Regions from separate parts of the Homo sapiens genome. Here region 1 is linked to region 2. The links come from fine-mapping of genetic effects on gene expression. A gene starts in region 2. The other region holds a variant in brackets. All regions are shown on one strand. Distances are between the middles of the regions. Region 1 has its middle 8.2 kb from the start of AGBL1. Region 2 holds the start of LINC01584 (long intergenic non-protein coding RNA 1584).

The links. PIP is the estimated chance that this variant, and not a neighbour inherited with it, causes the effect.
Region 1: its variant is the best candidate, but not a certain one, in a credible set for the expression of LINC01584 in testis (GTEx, PIP 0.53).

What each region holds. Positions count from the first base shown.
Region 1 is chr15:86,069,496-86,073,901 of GRCh38, reverse strand. No RefSeq gene overlaps it. Among named protein-coding and RNA genes, the nearest start is that of AGBL1, 8.2 kb to the left of the region's middle. The variant T/C (reference allele first, on the strand shown) is at 1,936.
Region 2 is chr15:86,114,216-86,118,621 of GRCh38, reverse strand. It overlaps LINC01584 (long intergenic non-protein coding RNA 1584), which reads left to right and starts at 1,905. Exons shown (of 6, transcript NR_120368.1): 1 at 1,905-2,007. The region is part of intron 1 of AGBL1 (AGBL carboxypeptidase 1); the gene reads right to left.

The sequences.
Region 1 (4,406 bases), 45 kb after region 2:
TCCAGAGTGTACAAAACAGGTGAACAATAATTCTTGCTAAATGTTACAATTCAATCATTTCTGGCATAACTTTGAGGTCCAATAATAATAGGAAGGCTTCCCTTGGTGTTGGGAGAACATTCTTGACCACCACTCCCCCAGCTTAATTATCAGAGTCTTAGTCATACTTGTCCAAGATTCAGAAAGCTCATCACCCTGCCTTTTCTTATCTACAAATCCTGGTCTATTAAACAGGTGTCCAGGTGATAACTTATTCTCCTTCACTGTCTTGGAAGGTTTTTCTCCTCCTCCTGGTTGATGTGAAGCAAAGCCCACATCCTTCAGGACCTATGGGAAGTGGTAGAATACAAAAGTCACACAAAGGGGAACGCCTAGAACAGTGAGGGGAGGTTTCAGTGGCAGTTGATTTATCCTCCTTCTCTCAGTAGTGCTCACCTGCCCCAACCCAACCACACACCACCACCACCCAAACCTCCTACCCCTTTGACCTCTAGTGTGGAGTGATAAGGGTTATAATTAGGATGAGTTCATACAGGGAGAAGATTGTGTGAGGCTGTGGTCTCACAAGGAGTTTCTTGTGAACTATGGAAGCCTTGCTTTCAAATGCAAACTTTTTAGATGGGATCAAGGACCATATTGCTCGTTTATATGTAAATTGTATTTTCTGGCAGAAAAATATAATAAAGCATTTTTTAAAAATCTTCCAAACTTTTCACACAGACTTAAGTTATTCCAGAATCCCAAAAAAGTATTATTACCACAAAAGGGATCACTGGTCCCAGGAGGAAATACATATTAGCATTCCAGGACCAACAGGTTCCTATGCCTGCTGTGAAGTAAACGACCAACACATTGAGACAGCCAGGTGTGCAGCAGAAGAAGAGTTGAATGATCACAGGGCAGATGGGTGAGGAGATGTGAGGAGACCCTCAAATCTGTCTCCCTGAGGAGTTCTGGGTTGAGGTTTCTAAGCGGATCATGGAGGGTGAGGGGCTGGAAAATTAGGGGCATTGATTGGTTTGGGTAAGGGGGAAGAAATCATCAGAATGTGGAAACTGCCTTCTTTGATGAGTCAGTTCCTTCTGGGGTCTTTCAGACCAGCTAGCATCAGTAGTTTCACTGACATGCATGACCAGAAAGAATATCTCAAAGGGAAAACTTAATGTTTCACAATAATTAAGTTGTTATCTACAGAGCAGTTAAGGGGAACTATAATCTTGTGTCAGGATTTCCATGATTCCGGGGTGGCAGACAGCAAACAACTATAAGGAAGCAAGTCAGAGAGAATAAGCTGAGCTAGTAAATGCTGAGTGCGCTGCAAGTTTGGTTTATTTTCATTTCTCCCCCTCCCATCTTTCCTGATAAATTCTATAATGTTTATAGAAATGGTTTCATTAGTTTAATTGAATTATTTCTATCAGAGAATACGAGAAGGGTAATTGGTTCTGGACTAGTCTCTATTGTTTATCGATTTCTTTACTTCATTAATATCTGCTCTTTATTATGTCCTTTCTACTTATTCTGGATTTAAGTTGTTTCTATCTTTCTAACTTCTTAAGGCACAAATTTAGATTACCAATCTTAAATTTTTCTTCTCTTCTAATATAAGCGTATAAAGCTATAAACTTCCCTCTATGTACTGCCTTTGCTGAGTCCCACAACTTTTCATGTGTGTTCATTATCATTTAGCTGAAAACATCTTCCAATGTTTGACACATGGGGTATTTAAACATGTGTTTTATAAATATGCAGATATTGGGACTTTGCCAGATGTCTTGGTCCATTCAGTGTTGCTTTAAAGGAATGCCTGAAGCTGGGAAATGTATAAAGAAAAGAGGTTTATTTGGCTCATAGTTCTAAAGGCTGTACAAGAAGCATTTGCTTCTGGTGAGGGCTTCAGGCTGCTTCCACTTATGGTGAAAGGCAAAGGGGAGC[T/C]AGTGTATGTAGAGACCATGTGGTAAAAGAAGAAGAGAGAGATAGGGGAGGTGCCAGGCTCTTTTTAACAACCAGCTCTCACAGGAACTAATAGAGTGAGAACTCACTCACTCTCCTGCTTCAGGGAGGGCATTGATCCATTTATGAGGGATCCACCCCCATGACCCCAACACTTCCCACTAGGCCCCATCTCCAAACACTACCACACTGGGGATTAAATTTGAGCATGAGATTTGGAAGGATCAAACTTCCAAACCATGGCACCAGAGTTCCTTTCATTAATCTTCAGTTTAATTCCATTACGGACAAAGAACATATTCTAAATATTGGAAGATTTCTGTCATTTGAAATTTACTGAGACTTCATTTTTGACCCAGCATATAGTTAATCTTAAAGAAAATTAAATGTGTAAATAAAAAAGAATGTAGGTTCTGAGCTGCTGGATGTAACATACTATAATTGTCAATCATATCAAAGCAGTTGCAATGGATTAGATGTTTGTATACCTCCAAAATTTGCATTGAAATCTTAATCCCTAATATGATGGCAGTAGGAGTTGGGGCCTTTGGGAGGTGATTAGGCCATGAAGGCAGAGCCTTCGTGAATGGAATCAGGGCTCTTATAGAAGACAGCCCAGTTATCTCCCTCATCCCTTTTTCATATAAAGACACAGTAAACCTGACAAAAACAAGAAATGGGGAAACGATTCCCTATTTAATAAATGGTGCTGGGAAAACTGGCTAGCCATATGTAGAAAGCTGAAACTGGATCCCTTCCTTACACCTTATACAAAAATTAATTCAAGATGGATTAAAGACTTAAATGTTAGACCTAAAATCATAAAAACCCTAGGAGAAAACCTAGGCAATACCATTCAGGACATAGGCATGGGCAAGGACTTCATGTCTAAAACACCAAAAGCAATAGCAACAAAAGCCAAAATTGACAAATGGGATCTAATTAAACTAAAGAGCTTCTGCACAGCAAAAGAAACTACCATCAGAGTGAACAGGCAACCTACGGAATGGGAGAAAATTTTTGCAATCTACTCATCTGACAAAGGGCTAATATCCAGAATCTACAATGAACTCAAACAAATTTACAAGAAAAAAACAAACAACCCCATCAAAAAGTGGGCGAAGGATATGAACAGACACTTCCCAAAAGAAGACATTTATGCAGCCAACAGACACATGAAAAAATGCTCATCATCACTGGCCATCAGAGAAATACAAATCAAAACCACAAAGAGATACCATCTCCCACCAGTTAGAATGGCGATCATTAAAAACTCAGGAAGCAACAGGAGCTGGAGAGGATATGGAGAAATAGGAACACTTTTACACTGTTGGTGGGACAGTAAACTAGTTCAACCATTGTGGAAGTCAGTGTGGCAATTCCTCAGGGATCTAGAACTAGAAATACCATTTGACCCAGCCATCCCATTACAGGGTATGTACCCAAAGGATTATAAATCATGCTGCTATAGAGATACATGCACACATATTTTTATTGCGGCACTATTCACAGTAGCAAAGACCTGGAACCAACCCAAATGTCCAACAACGATAGACTGGATTAAGAAAATGTGGCACATATACACCATGGAATACTATGCAGCCATAAAAAATGATGAGTTCATGTCCTTTGTAGGGACATGGATGAAGCTGGAAACCATCATTCTCAGCAAACTATCGCAAGGACAGAAAACCAAACACCACATGTTCTCACTCATAGGTGGGAATTGAACAATGAGAACACATGGACACAGGAAGGGGAACATCACACACCGGGGACTGTTGTGGGGTGGGGGATGGTGGAGGGATAGCATTAGGAGATATACCTAATGTTAAATGATGAGTTAATGGGTGCAGCACACCAATATGGCACATGTATACATATGTAACTAATCTGCATGTTGTGCACATGTACCCTAAAACTTAAAGTATAATAAAAAAGAAAGAAAGAAATTTTAAAAAAGACACATTAAAAAGATAGCTGTCTATGAACCAGGAAGAGGGCCACCACAAGGGAATGACTCTCCCAAAACCTTGATCTTGGACCTACCAGCCTTCAGAACTATGAGTAATAAGTATTTGTTACTTAAGCTATACAATCCATGGGGCATTTTTGTTATAGCAACCTGAATGGACTAAGAGAGTGGTTGACAGCCTTGTTGAGATCTTCTGTCTTATGATTATGGGATTTGTCTCTCTCTCCCTTTAGTTGTCAGTTTAGGCTTCATGTATTTTAAAGTTCTGTTATTAGGCAAGTACACATTTACAATTTCTATGTCCTCCTAATGAATTAAAACTTTTATCATAATGAAATGTCCCTCTATGTCTTTGGTAATACTTTTGTCTTAAAGTCTATTCTGTCTGATGTTAATATAGTCACTCCAAATTTATTATGCTTATGGTTTACATGCTACATCTTTTTGCATCCTTTACTTTACATTTATCTGTGTCTTA
Region 2 (4,406 bases):
GTAACAAAAAGACACTGGGTTCTAGATTTTTATGAGCATATTTTTAACCTCTGCACCTGCTCTCCAATGCTGTACTCAAACAGAAGCTCCTAGAGCAACCAAATAAAGGAAATTTAAGATGCAACTTCTCATTGCCTTTTTTTTTTTTGAAGTGTAATTATAATGTTGTCATTGGTGCTGATTCGCAGAGGGCCAACAGTGTACGTGGTGCTGCAGAGTTCTTGCAAAGACAGCATTTTGTGAGCATAAACAGAGGGGAGACGTGTCTTGAATACAATTAATTTTGTTCTTTGAAATCCTACCTGCCAATTTGGACTTTTAATAATTTTATTCTCATTCTCCTCTGCCAGCCTTTACTCCAGAGAGAAGCAAAGGGAGAAAGACAAGATGAACTAGGGCTCCCCAGCACCTCAAATGAGAGTTTGCTTTTAAAGCCCTTGGCAGCACCTTTAAAAATGGAACTGAGTCCACCTGGGAAAAGGTGAGGGCCATCTCTTGAAAGAGAGATTTTCTGAGTAGAAACATTATATTGACACCCAGGAGAACGGTAACAATGTCAGTGTAACAAGAAATTCAGAGATAGCAGTTTAATGTGACAGCACAAACACTGGAATAAGCAGAGACTTTTCAAATCAAGAAGATACCAAACTAAGATCCGCAGAGCAAGTCTTGACAGTTATTCTTCTTGTGCCAGAAGCTCACTAATGGAGTTACACATAACCTTTCTAAACTACAGATTCCCGCACCAATCCAAATCACCAAATCACAGGTCCTGGGGTTGGATTTCAGGCATGTGAATTTGTTAAAACCATGATGTTCTTCTATCATCTCTAATTACATTAAGCTTAGTTGTTGTTGTTACTTTTTCTGTGAAAACCCAGAAAAAGAAAAAATATGAAGGATGACGTGTCCCATTTGATGATCAGGAGGGAAACTTTTGATTAAAACAGGTCAAGAAGAGTTTTGAATACCTCTTGTGCACACGTGAAGTGTTAATCATTGCACATTATACATTGCTTGATATGCACTAAAAACACATTCTGAGCCTTGGTTTCCTCATCTGTGAAATAGAGATAATTCTTACTTTGGAGTCTTTAGTGAGAATTAAATGAGATAATTGTGTAAAGTATCTAGGTCATAGAAGTTACAAAACTTGCTCAACACAATAGTCACACAGGGAAAATTGGAAATTACAGGTAGGTCAATCAGATGCCAAATAGACCTCATTTTAGGCTTTATTCCTTACACACTCAGACTTCTTCTGAAAAACAAATTCTCAAATACTGAGAAATAAAGGGAAAAAAAAGTTGGTCAGGAGAGCAGACTGCCGGTTTCTCCCCATTTTCCTTAGTAACAGACCAATTTTAGCGGGGATTCCCAGCAGCCATCCCAGAGCCCGGGGTGTTCTCAAGGCAGGTAATCATGCATCACATCAGGATGGAGGGAAACCAGAGCCATGAGTGTGGACCCCCAGAACACTCACCTCCAGATTTCTTTATGTAAAAAGGAATAAAATAGTGATTTTAGTTCCCATGAGCCATAGCCAAATCTAATTCTAATGAATACAATCACACAGGAAAACTCTTCAACAAGACTTTGATGATGACCATTGATAGATCACTAAGCAACTGGCCTAAGTAACACGAAAACATGTTAAAAAAAAAAAAAAAGAAAAGAAAAGAAAGGTGTTTCTGAGGCCAGATGAAGAAAGATGCTTGGTTACCAACTGTATTAGGGTTGTCTTGAGAATCAGAACCAGTGAGAGAGATTTATTGTGATAATTGGCTCATGTAATTATGGAGGTGAGAAGTCCCATGACCTGTCATCTGCAACCTAGAGAACCCAATAGAATTCAGTCTAAGTCCAAAGTTCTAAGAACCAGGGAAGCTGACTGTGTAACTCCTAGTTGAGTGTGAAGACCTGAGGTATCAGGGGTAGGGGTTGCTCTGCTTGTGTAAGTCCCATAGTGTGAAGGCCAGAGAACCAAGAGATGGTCAAGAAGAGAGAGTAAGTGTCCAATGTCCCAGCTCAAGAAGAGAGAGTAAGTTCATCATTCCTCTGTCTTTGTGTTGTATTCGGGCCCACAACAGATTAGACTATGCCCACCCACAATGATGAAAGTGGATCTTCTCTACTCAGCCTACTGAACCAATGCTCATCTCTCCCAGAAACACCCTGCCAGAAATAATGCTTTACCAGCTACCTGGGCATCCCTTAGCCCACTCAAGCTGACACATTAGCCATCACATCAACAAAGTAATTGGAAAAAAACAAACACATAATCCTTCAGCTTTAGCACTAGAGAGAACTAAGATTCAAACCCAGCTCTAATACTTTACTGGCTGTGTAATCCTAAGCAAGTTATTTTAATCTTTCTGAGCCTTACATTTTTGTTCTCGATTGGTTGGTTGGTTGTGTTTTGCTGTAGCTGAAATCACCTAGAGCAATACTCACAAAACAGAGTTGAGATGAATTTTAAATTAAATGAGAGAACAAATGCAAATAACATAGCACAATGGCACTCAATAAATTCTAGGTTCCCTGCCTATTTTAGTGATACAGTCAATTTTATTATTGTTCTCAATTATTTACTTTCCTTCCTATAAGAGAATTTTAGTTGGAAAAGTGACATGATCTGACTTAAATACCAACCTCATGTATAGGATGACATGACTGAAATCTTCTGAGAGAGAAATGAGCCCTACTAATAATTATAACAGGAGAGTAGGTATAAAGCAGAGCTGTCCCAGAAGGCTGAAATGTTTGGTCATCCTGGAGAGATGAGTCTGGAGTTTCATGGAAAAGTCAGGACCAGAGATATAGCTGGGGCATCATTGCCCTTAACATACACATGGTATGTGACTGAGGAAGATGCCCTAGGAAAGTACACAGAGAAGAGAAGAAAGAGAACCCGAGAGATAGCCTTGAGCTTTCCAGTGCTGACAAGTCAGACAGAAAATGAGGCACCAATGAGAAGACTGAAGAGGAGCAGTAGTCCTCATCCCAGAGCACCAGATGTTGGAAGGTGACTAAGCGGTATCTGGGAGTAAGTATAAATAATTCTGAGCATTTCACTACCTCCGGCCTTTACAAAAATCACAATATTGTCATTCAAAGGCCCTTCTTTTCAAACAACAGTGATCACAATGATATTTCTGATATGTTCTTCTAAGTTACAGAGAACAGATAATTTTTTTTCTTAAGAAAAAGAAAGAAAGAAATAGCCAATAAAGTAAAGATTTGCCAGGAAATGCACATCGTGCTATGTTTATACTCTAGCACAACCTAGTGGTACTGCTTTTTACCAGGCAGGTCTAGACTAGAATAAAGTGGATGTTGCTGTCAAAATTTCATCTTCACAGTCACAATCCACCACTGTGACTTTATGGTACTCCCCTGCATCATGGGACTGGAAGCAAGATGGATGTCACAATGCTACCTAGATGGCTCAAACATCCTTCAAGAGGGATATTTTTAGGAAAACAAAAGTGGTCTCATTGTGTCATTTTGAGATCCCAGTAGCTATTTTTTAGCAGTCAAGATATTACCTCAGGTCTTCCTTACTTGAGGTGCCAGGCAGTGTTTATCCATAACCCAGTGGTGAACAGTTAGCACCACTAGCAGCCACAATTTTTTCAGCCCTTTTCACATGAGAGCCTATCATGAAGTTCAATAAAGACATTCTAACAAAAGAGTCAAATTCACTGACAGCTCAGGCTACTCTGACAGTGAATCTCATCAGAACGAGGCTCCAAGTGAATTCACTGAGAAACAGACTTGTAGCGTTGGACCTCAGCATCTCGTTATAGGATACGAATTGTCCCATGCATGCAAACAGTTCTGAAGTGGGCAAGCATGGTGTGGGTTGTCATTTGCACCAAGCTCAGCTAGCATACAGTTGTTTTATCGGCCACATTCTGCTATGTGGAACCCTTAAGCCAGCAAGGCCTACAACTTCAACAGGATTCATATGCATGGAATTGTGACATCGGTGAAAAAAAGACCCTTCCTGGAATCTCCCAAACTTCTTTTTGTTTTAGAGGTTAAAATCTTGGAAAGGGACTCCCATCATGGAAGTACAATATCTACATCATATTGATATTGAGTCAGCATTTGGGCCATAAGGAGCTAAGTTCCTATTGTTTTTCACAAATGCAGGGCGCTCTAGGAGTCCCACTAGATCTGCAACAGAGAATGTCTTCTGCAGACAGGCACACACAAGCAGACCAGAGTAGAAGACGCAGGCCACCTCCCACAAGTTCAGTTGGAAGTGACACCTCTGAGTTCTTCCTTCTGGACTCCTTGCCAAGGCAGAGTGCAGACTCACCTCCCCCAAGGGTCCAAGGCTGAAGACACAGAGCCACTATCAAATAGCCAGTTGCAGATTTTAAATATAACATCATCTT